3 linked regions of the Homo sapiens genome follow. The protein of the gene in region 2 purifies or fractionates together with the protein of the main gene of each other region. This does not show direct contact. Each region holds a gene or a part of one and is shown on either strand. Other genes may lie near its edges.

Region 1 (2,723 bases), on a different chromosome or scaffold from region 2:
GGTGCCTGGCGGGTAGTCCTAATACTGCCTATCATCAGCTATCATGGTTACAAAAGAACCATTTCTTTGCAGGAATAAAGCCGGTTGGTTGGACAGTGAGCTCAACATGTTCACACACCAGTACCTGCAGCCCAGCAGATAGTGGGCACCTGAGGCGGAGTCTGCGTGGAGAGGGGCGGTGCTGCCAGCCCTAAGTGCCATGTGGGCTCCCCCAGGGGCACGTGTGGCTCCTGCCCCCTGGCCACTGCCAAGAGAATGAAGCACCCAGTCTCGTACCATTTTGAGCCCTCCAGCACTACTTATTTTCCCCCACCTTTGCCTGCTGTTGCTGGAAGAGCTGGCTCATACCCCCAAAGGACACTTTCAGCGACAGCTATGGACAGCATGGTACCAAGGAGTTAAGTTGAGGCTTTTTCCAGCTTTCTCTGGTTCATTTGATTGCTTGATAAGGCCTCAGGATCTCAGCATTGCACAATGCCTCATGGAAGCCTTTGAGGGTATCACACAGACACCCCCACCTTCCTCCAGCCTGTGCGCACCTGCCCTCCTTGCAGCCCAGCACACCTGCAGGTGTAAGGGACGATTGGAGTTTCTTCCCAGAGAGTCTGTCCCAGAAGGACTGTGGCTTGTGTGTGTCCATCTCGCCTGTTGGCTCAGTGCTTCATCCCATTTGCAGAGCCTCAGACACGTCTTGGTGGTGAGGCTCAGTTACCCCTGGGCTTAGGCTGAGGCGGGCCCTGTGCTGGGGGTGGTAGAAAGGATGCTGCTGAGGCAGCTGGAGGAGTGGGAGTAGCTCAGAGGGGAGGGCTGTTGGATGTATGGGGAGCTGGCAGAGCAGGTGGCAGTCACTGGGACAAGGAGGGACTTGCCTCTCTTCTCATTATTGTGTCCTTTGCTTTAGTGTCAGTCCTGGACTTGTGCAGGCCTGTTTTGTGTAGATCTGTTTTGGAAGATGGCATGGTCTAGGTGGTTGAAGGATGTAGTAGAAGGATGGATGGTGGAAGGTGGGGACGTTGGTGGCTGGCTGAGGTGCATGGGCCCCACACAGGACAGCTGGAGAATGGGCCGTCCACTTGGCCTCGTTCTGCGAGGGGCTCATGGGTCTGAGAGCCCCCACCCACTAGGCTTGATTGCATCCCTGTTGTGCCCTTTAAGAGACATGTTTCCACCCCACCCCCAACCTTGTCCCAAGTGCCCTGGACTAAATTTCCTGTGCCAGTGACTGCAGTTGGCCAAGGGACAATGTGGAAAACCCAGTGTCCATCTTTCCACCCTCCCTGATCTCCAGAACCTTCGACTGACCCCCTTGTCTTTATGCTGATGTTGAGTTTTGGGATTGTTACTGGTTGAAGTGGGGGCAGATGCCTGTCACCAAGGTGTTGACTGTGTGAGAAAAGCAGTTTGGGTGACAAATCCTGTGTGGCACAAGTTGGATCGCTTCCTAGAAATAAGCAACACCTCTCCCAAAAAGCAGCCCACAAGGCAGGGGCCCAGCAGCCCAGCCATCACTCATCTTTGAGGAAATGAGTTGGTAGCCTCTGTGCACTGTTTGGTGGCCACATCACAGGTGATGTCCTGTTCACATACCTGCTTGTATTTAAAGCCCTCAGTCTGTCCTGTTGTGTGGGGCGAAGTGATGGACTCTGCCAGGTGGACATGCTGTGGGTGGATGTTCCCGGCGTGTGCCGGGCCTGAATGGACAGGGGCCACTTCACAGCATGTCAGGGAAAATCACTGTCACACAATTCCAATGGATTTTGTGCTCTTTTTGAAAAAAAAAAATTCTTTAGCGTAAACATGAATTTTTTTTCAATGTAGCCCCTGGGGAATGAATGAAATTTTGAGCTTCTTCAATACGTAAAATTAAATTTATACCACTGAGGGAGAGACCCTTTCTGAAAGAAGTATGGCCAAAAGCACTTTAATGCTGCTGACATTGTTGTTTTTATGTTCATTTGCTGGAGCGCAAGACGTGCTGACACAGTGAGTTTTCTCTGATGTATTTAAGGTGATGTATTTGCTTGAGTTACTCCTGTATCATTGCTCATAATATTGGAAACTAAAATAAAACCTAGTTGGAAATCCTTTGTGAGATCTGTCTTTTTGGGTTCTTGTACAAACTCCTCTTTGACATGGCCAGCTGTATTCTGAAGTGACCATAACTTTGGGGAAGTTCCCACTATAATCTGGCTCCTTATTCTTGGAAGGAATTTGATACTCTCAAAAGAACAGATGGTTTAACTGATCTTTAAGGATCAGGAAATCGAGACTGATTTCTTTACAGATTTCTCTGTAACTCCAGACCATTTTTCACTTAAAAAGTAAATGACTCACTGTTCCATCCTGCTTTGCCTTCTGAGAATTTGGTTGCCACTATTCTTTTTTTTTTTTTTCTTTTTTGAGATGGAGTCACGCTCTGTCGCCCAGGCTGGAGTGCAGTGGCACGATCTCGGCTCGCTGCAAGCTCCGCCTCCCGGGTTCAAGCAGTTCTCTGCCTCAGCCTCCCAAGCAGCTGGGATTACAGGCGCCGACCACCAGGCCTGGCTAATTTTGGTATTTTAGTAGAGACAGGGTTTCATCATCTTGGCCATACTGGTCTCAAACTCCTGACCTTGTGACCCACCTGCCTCGGTCTCCCAAAGTGCTGGCATTACAGGTGTGAGCCACCGCTTTTTTTTCTTTTTTTTTTTAAGGGTCCTCAGGAGTAGATACAGGGGTAGTCA
Region 2 (2,757 bases):
CTCCTTCCCTAAAAGTAGAGTAAAATGGAAGCGAGCATCCTGGGATTGGGGGCAAGAGGGGGACCGCAGGGTAGCTGTGGGTTCCAACTGCTGTCAGAGTCAGAGAGGCAGCCCCAAGCCAGCCTCCCTGCTTTGCCAGGGAATTTGGGGGAGGAAGGTGACAGCTGCCCAGAGGCTGACTCATCTGATATTTAGCACTGGGTAGGATGATTGTTTCTGAGCATTTTTCTTAAAGGCCTCAGATCTAAATTATGCCACCGGCTCCCACTCTTGCTACCTCCCGTCAACTTCTCTGCCTTGCCTTCCACCCCTGTAGTTACCATACACAGAGGAGGAGGAGCTGTCCTTGTCCCAGGTTGGGAGGCTGACAACCCCTTAGCAAGATGCTGCCAGCCCAGAGCTCTCCAAGGGGAGGAACACCCCTGAGACTCAGGCCCCTCTCCTTCAGCCCTGCTTGGGCTGCAAGCGCCGTGCCAAGGAAAGGCATCTTGGTGAGAAGAGCTGCTGTGGGGGAAGGGAGATCAAATGCCAGAGAAATGTGGGGTGCCCCACCCTCAGGATAGTAAAAGAGTATGGAGGTATTTCTGGAAGGAAATGAGCGGCACTGTGTGAAGCCTCGCACCTGTGTGACACTTCCTATGGGGTCTTTGTCACACTCTAGTACTATGTCCCTGAAGAGTTTAGCAGCCACACTCTTAGAAGGGTGCTGGGAGATGGTGTTGCCCTCTGCAGCCATGTTTAGGGGAGCGGAACCTGAGGCCCACAGTGGGTGAGATTAGCTCAAGAAGCCACAGAGGCCACCAGAGGGCCACGGACTTCGGAAAGGAGAAGAGAAGAACAGGGCATCAGGCCTCACAACGCAAACCTACCCAGAGATGGGCACAGTGGCTCATGCCTGTAATCCCACCACTTTGGGAAGAGGCGGATCGCTTGAGGTCAGGAGTTCGAGACTAGCCTCGAAACCCTATCTCTACTAAAAATACAAAAATTAGCCAGGCATGGTGGCCTGCGCCTGTAATCCCAGCTACTCAGGAGGCTGAGGCAGGAGAATCACTTGAACCCGGGAGGCGGAGGTTGCAGTGAGCCAAGATTGCACCACTGCACTCCAGCCTGGGAGATAGAGTGAGACTCCATCTCAAAAAAATAAAAAATAAAATAAACCTACCCGGAATGACCATGCTGAGGACTGGGAGCCCGCAGACTTTCAGCCACAGGCCGCGACAGCCGTGGGTCCCTCCCTGGTCAAGTCAGCAGGCCTTGTGGAGGCTGTGGGGTATCTGTGGTGACTCAGGTAATTATAGAGGGCTGGCCCCCAGCCCTGGTTCCTGTACACATGCCCCAACCCCATCCCCATCCACTCCCTCGCCAGTCCTAACCTCTTTCCTGGGTCCCCCCCCTTCAGCACCTAAGTCCATACCTAGGGCCGTGGAATTCCCGCTCAAGAGCAACAGAAGCCCCTCTCTGCACCCCCATTTCTGGACTGGATTGTCCACTGAGACGCGCAATGTCTGCATCTCTGACATCTAGAGGCTTCCTCGGGAAGGGCATGGGGATCTCCGTGAGATGTGGGGACTTTCACTGGCCAACCAAGAAATCTACACAGCGTCCGGGGACCTGTGACACACATCCCTCCCGCCTCCTCAACCTGATGTCCCTCTCTGAATCTGCAGCTTTCGTGCTGTGAAGGTGTCTTTACATGTGAAACAAACAAACCCAAGTCAAGAGTAAATCATCTCATTTACTAGTGAGAAAATGTTGGAGCTGGAGTCCTTCAGAGAGTCCTGGCCAGGCAAGAGGGCCATCAGCTCTCTTCTGCTCAACAGGGGCTCTCAGCCTCAGGACACTCTCAGGCCTGGAATGTCCCCAACACACTCAAGGAGAAACATGTCCTGTGCAGACCCACAGGAGGCATCTTTGCCCGGCACAAGGAAGAGCTGGGGTCAGTGGGACCTGTAGATGTAGACACATCATATGGAGGGTGGGTAGGACCAATGTGGCAGCTTCATGGAGGCCAAGTGTGGCTCTGCACCAGGAAGGGGCTGTGATGGCTGGAGGTGCCCAGCAGTGCAGGCGGGGAGTGCCTGGCAGTGGCGTGGCCAGGTGGAGGCCACCTGTCAAGTTTGCAATAAAGCAGTTTCCTGAATTTGGTGAGAACATGGACTAGAGGACTCTAGCCTCTTCCCCCTTTAGGGTTTCACTTCAGTAAGTCTTAAAATTAGAGTGTGGTGACTCACGCCTGTAATCCCAGCACTTTGGGAGGCCAAGGCAGGTGGATCACTTGAGGTCAGGAGTTTGAGACCATCCTGGCCAACATGCAGAAACCCTGTCTCTACTAAAAAAAAAAAATAAGTAAATAAATAAAAATTAGCCAGGTGTGGTGGTGCACGGCTGTAATCCCAGCTACTTGGGAGGCTGAGGCAGGAGAATCACTTGAACCCAGGAGGCGGAGGTTGTGGGCCGAGATCATGCCACTGCACTCCAGCCTGGGTGGCAGAGTGAGATTCAGTCTCAAAAAAAAAAAAAAAGGATTAGAGCTTGGTGCAGTGGCAGCCACCTGTAATCCCAACTTCTTGAGAAGCTGAGATGGGAGGCCCCCCTTGAGCCCAGAAGTTTGAGGCCAGCCTAAGCAACACTGTGAGACCTTGTCTCAAAAAAATAATAAAAACAATAATTCTTAAAATAAGCTGACTGGGCTGAAATCATGTATTTGTACAACAAACATTAAGCATCTAAATGCACCTGGCTCTGTGCTAAGCT
Region 3 (3,658 bases), on a different chromosome or scaffold from region 2:
GACCATCCTGGCCAACATGGTGAAACCCTGTCTCTACTAAAAATACAAAAATTTACTAGACATGGTGGCATGCATCTGTAGTCCAGCTACTCGGGAGGCTGAGGCAGGAGAATAGCTTGAACCCAGGAGGCGGAGGTTGCGGTGAGCCGAGATTGCACCACTGCACTCCAGCCTGGCGACAGGGCAAGACTCCGTCTCAAAAAAAAAAAAAAAAAAAAGCCAGACACCGTGGCTCACGCTTGTAGTCCCAGCACTTTGGGAGACTGAGGCGGGCGGATCACGAGGTGAGGAGATCGAGACCATCCTGGCCAACATGGTGAAACCCCCATCTCTACTAAAAACACAAAAAAATTAGCTGGGCATGGTGGCACGTGACTGTAATCCCAGCTACTCAGGAGGCTGAGGCAGGAGAATCGCTTGAATCTGGGAAGCAGAGGTTGCGGTGAGCCAAGTTCTCATCACTACATGTACTCCAGCCTGGCGACAGAGCAAGACTCCATCTAAAAAAAAAAAAAAAAAAAAACCACTTAATATGAAATAACTTCCATTAACTGATCATGAAATTTTGCCCTCTTTCAGATTAAGATGAAGGACACTTCAGTCACATGTTTACTGTGGCAATATAACTAGTCTGGATAATTTTATTAAATCATAGAATATACAGTCAGGAAACACTACAGCTATATTTAGCTGTTAGTTATCTCAATAAGCTACTTAATTTACTGGCAGACCAAAACAGGCATACTAAGCATTTTTATCAATTAAAAAAAGTCTTCAGTTGTTCAAGTTTCACATATACTCATAAAATTTTTAACTCGGGGGCACAGTTAACATAATTTATTGAGTGTTCTCCCTATAAAATATAAATTAACTTTTCCAAAAACATTCCTCAAAGATACTATAAACAAAAGAAATAAGGGTATATTTTATAACAGAAGAGTGTAATAGATGACCATTATGGTAAAACTAAGGTGCCATAAAAAATTTGGCCCAGCTATGAATTTCAGACCCTATGAATTTTTATGTTGAATACATTTGGCTATATTGCTAAGTGGGAAAAGGAGGAAAGTAATACCAAAATTATTGTGACCACCAATTTATAAAATCATTATTTTAAAGCTAATCGTAAAACTTCAAATGTTTAGAAAACAGTAATTTGTGGGTACTAATCGCATCTTACTATGTAACTGTAAAAGGCTATTTTCTCTTTGGTGCCCAGGCCAGCATTTTGAATACATTGCCAAAACATTTGCACTCCCTAGCTCTGACAATTCAAATACATAGGATTTTATCTATTTTACATTCCTGTTTGATAGAAATTTGAGGCAAATTTTACCCACACAGCCTGAAAAATACCTTGAAAGCAAACCTCGGTCTTCTGCATCTTCCAATTGATTCCTTTACAAACTCTGCACACATACAACTTAAGCCTCTGCTCAGGCTTATTATACCATGCACACTGCCCACAAGGAAAAAAATTAATTGAAAATAAAAGCCACAACTCTGTGTACTATTTAAACTGAATATCCAATTATAAATTGGTACATTGAAGTGTCTAAATAAGATGTTTTTAGCAATCTTGTTAAAAAAATTCTTGGGCAAAATATATCTTAATTTTTAAAAACACCCCAAGATTTTTAAAAAACACTTGTACTATACAACTTATAGTAACCTTGAAATTGGTTTACAAGGTTTTAATCAAGGTATTTACATACCAAGTAATGTAAAGCAAAAAAAAAAAAAAAAAAAAACAAAAACAAAAAACTAATTCCCAATGACATTTTAGAACATACTAATGCATCAAAGATTGTATGAAATTAAAATTAAGGCTTTTTCTGCACAATTTGTGTAATTTTAATTTTACATAGTAGCCAACCTTGGAAATGTCAGTCTTAACATTCTGATCAATCCACTGCATTCAATGCAGCGGAGTGTGTTAAGTGTTACTTCAAATAATTACATTGCTGCTACTTCTATGTTGAAGCATGCTTTTTAAACACTGTAGTTATTGAATATTTACAATATGTATCATTTAAACTTCATGTAAAAGCACAAGTATGACTGTCTGACTTCAATACAAACACCATACTTGGATTTCCCCCCAAAATGAAATGTAAAATACTACAATTTTAATAATCGACACTTTTGGAAGTTTTAAAAATATGTCTTAACGTGGACCACCAACATTTGCTCAAGTAACTCAAACAATGCTGTTCCTTTTTTAGGGTGCAAAACTTCAGTCTGGCTTCAGTTTCTTTAGGCATAGAGAAAGAAAATATTTCCTCCAAAGCGACTCCAAAATCACGCATTTCTTCTGAATATCACACTTTTTCTCTGCTGACTTCAAATGTGGTCCACCTCAGGGAAGGGGAGGGGAGTATCAGGATTCAGGATGAACTTATATGTGATTCCCAGGTTTTCACGATCCTCCCTTTTTTGCTCTTTTAAAAACACAGTGAGTTAAAATACTGAACAGCAAGATAAAAATGGAATAGTATCTAAGAATCAAAATGTATTAGCCATTTTTCCTATTATATCAAAATTTGTAGTCAGAATTGTCTTTATTGACTTTATTTTAGTTTTTGTACATAAAGAAAAATCATGTTCATATCCATCATGAACAAAAACTTAAAAAGGCAGAACTAGAAGACACGTGTCCTTCACCAAAGCAAATCTGTGCTAAAGGTTCCAAACATTTCAATTTTTAAAATAAATATTTTCATTTTCCGATGTCTACTTTCATGTCTTCAGAGTGTCACAGGAAATCGAAGCCTATCATGAATTACAATTTTTTTTTAGAGTCCCGGCTCACTGTGTTTGGTAACTTGCCATACCATATCCGGCTTGGTTAGGAGGAGGTATTACAGGGGGAGGAGCTTGTCCTTGGGGAGGCTGAGCACCAAATCCACCCATCCAAGCAGCAGAAGGTGATTGACTTGGAAGAAAAAGAAAAAATCTTCAGCAAACACAAGAAAAAAAAAATCACATATGTATTTACACAAAAATCAAGCAGAGCCTAATCACAGAATAGAAAACCAGAAATCAACACACCTACAACAAATAGAAAGATCAAAGAAATAAATGATATATGTGTAGAATACATATTCCAGTATTAGTCTTTGATATTTTTAAGATAACCACAACTTAACACACTGATGTCTGAGGAGTATCTGCAAACTAATTTTTTAAAAATTGTGAATGATTCAACACATCATCTATTACATAAGAAATTTTAAAAACAAGTTCATGTTGGAAACAGTCTCAAAGGAAGAAATCTGAAAATAAAGCTATGGGCTGGCCCTGGGCAGGGGAATTACAAAGGAGGAAACCACTCTATCAACAAAAGAAAAAAAAAAAAAAAAAAGGCCAGTTACTTTGTATCACACAAACCTCAGATTTCTCACACATACCACATAGGCATAAAACCATCAAACTTTTGAATATATCTGGACAAAGATCTTTTACATGCAAAAATAAATAAAAGTGTATCAGAAATGTAAATCAAATTCTACCAACTGCTTACAGGGATCATAGGACACACTAAATGTTACCCCAATCCCCCCTTTCCACCTAGGTAATGAGAAGTAATTTCTTAGCCTCATAAATCATATTTTGTTAGATTAGTTTCTATAATGCTCATAATGCCAAATAGCTCAAT

The links.
Region 1: the proteins of THY1 (region 2) and MFN2 purify together in Homo sapiens (affinity purification with mass spectrometry; one large-scale study listed by BioGRID and IntAct). This does not show direct contact.
Region 3: the proteins of THY1 (region 2) and TIAL1 fractionate together in Homo sapiens (co-fractionation; one large-scale study listed by BioGRID). This does not show direct contact.

The regions. Positions count from the first base shown.
Region 1 is NC_000001.11:12,011,424-12,014,146, forward strand, and holds the end of MFN2 (mitofusin-2), read left to right. Parts: intron 1-72; coding exon 73-142; 3' UTR 143-2,085; downstream 2,086-2,723. UniProt on the Homo sapiens protein: Mitochondrial outer membrane GTPase that mediates mitochondrial clustering and fusion. Mitochondria are highly dynamic organelles, and their morphology is determined by the equilibrium between mitochondrial fusion and fission events.
Region 2 is NC_000011.10:119,414,873-119,417,629, reverse strand, and holds the end of THY1 (thy-1 membrane glycoprotein isoform 1 preproprotein), read left to right. Parts: 3' UTR 1-2,154; downstream 2,155-2,757. UniProt on the Homo sapiens protein: May play a role in cell-cell or cell-ligand interactions during synaptogenesis and other events in the brain.
Region 3 is NC_000010.11:119,572,857-119,576,514, forward strand, and holds the end of TIAL1 (nucleolysin TIAR), read right to left. Parts: intron 2,957-3,658; coding exon of another isoform or gene 2,936-2,956; coding exon 2,809-2,935; 3' UTR 609-2,808; downstream 1-608. UniProt on the Homo sapiens protein: RNA-binding protein involved in alternative pre-RNA splicing and in cytoplasmic stress granules formation. Shows a preference for uridine-rich RNAs.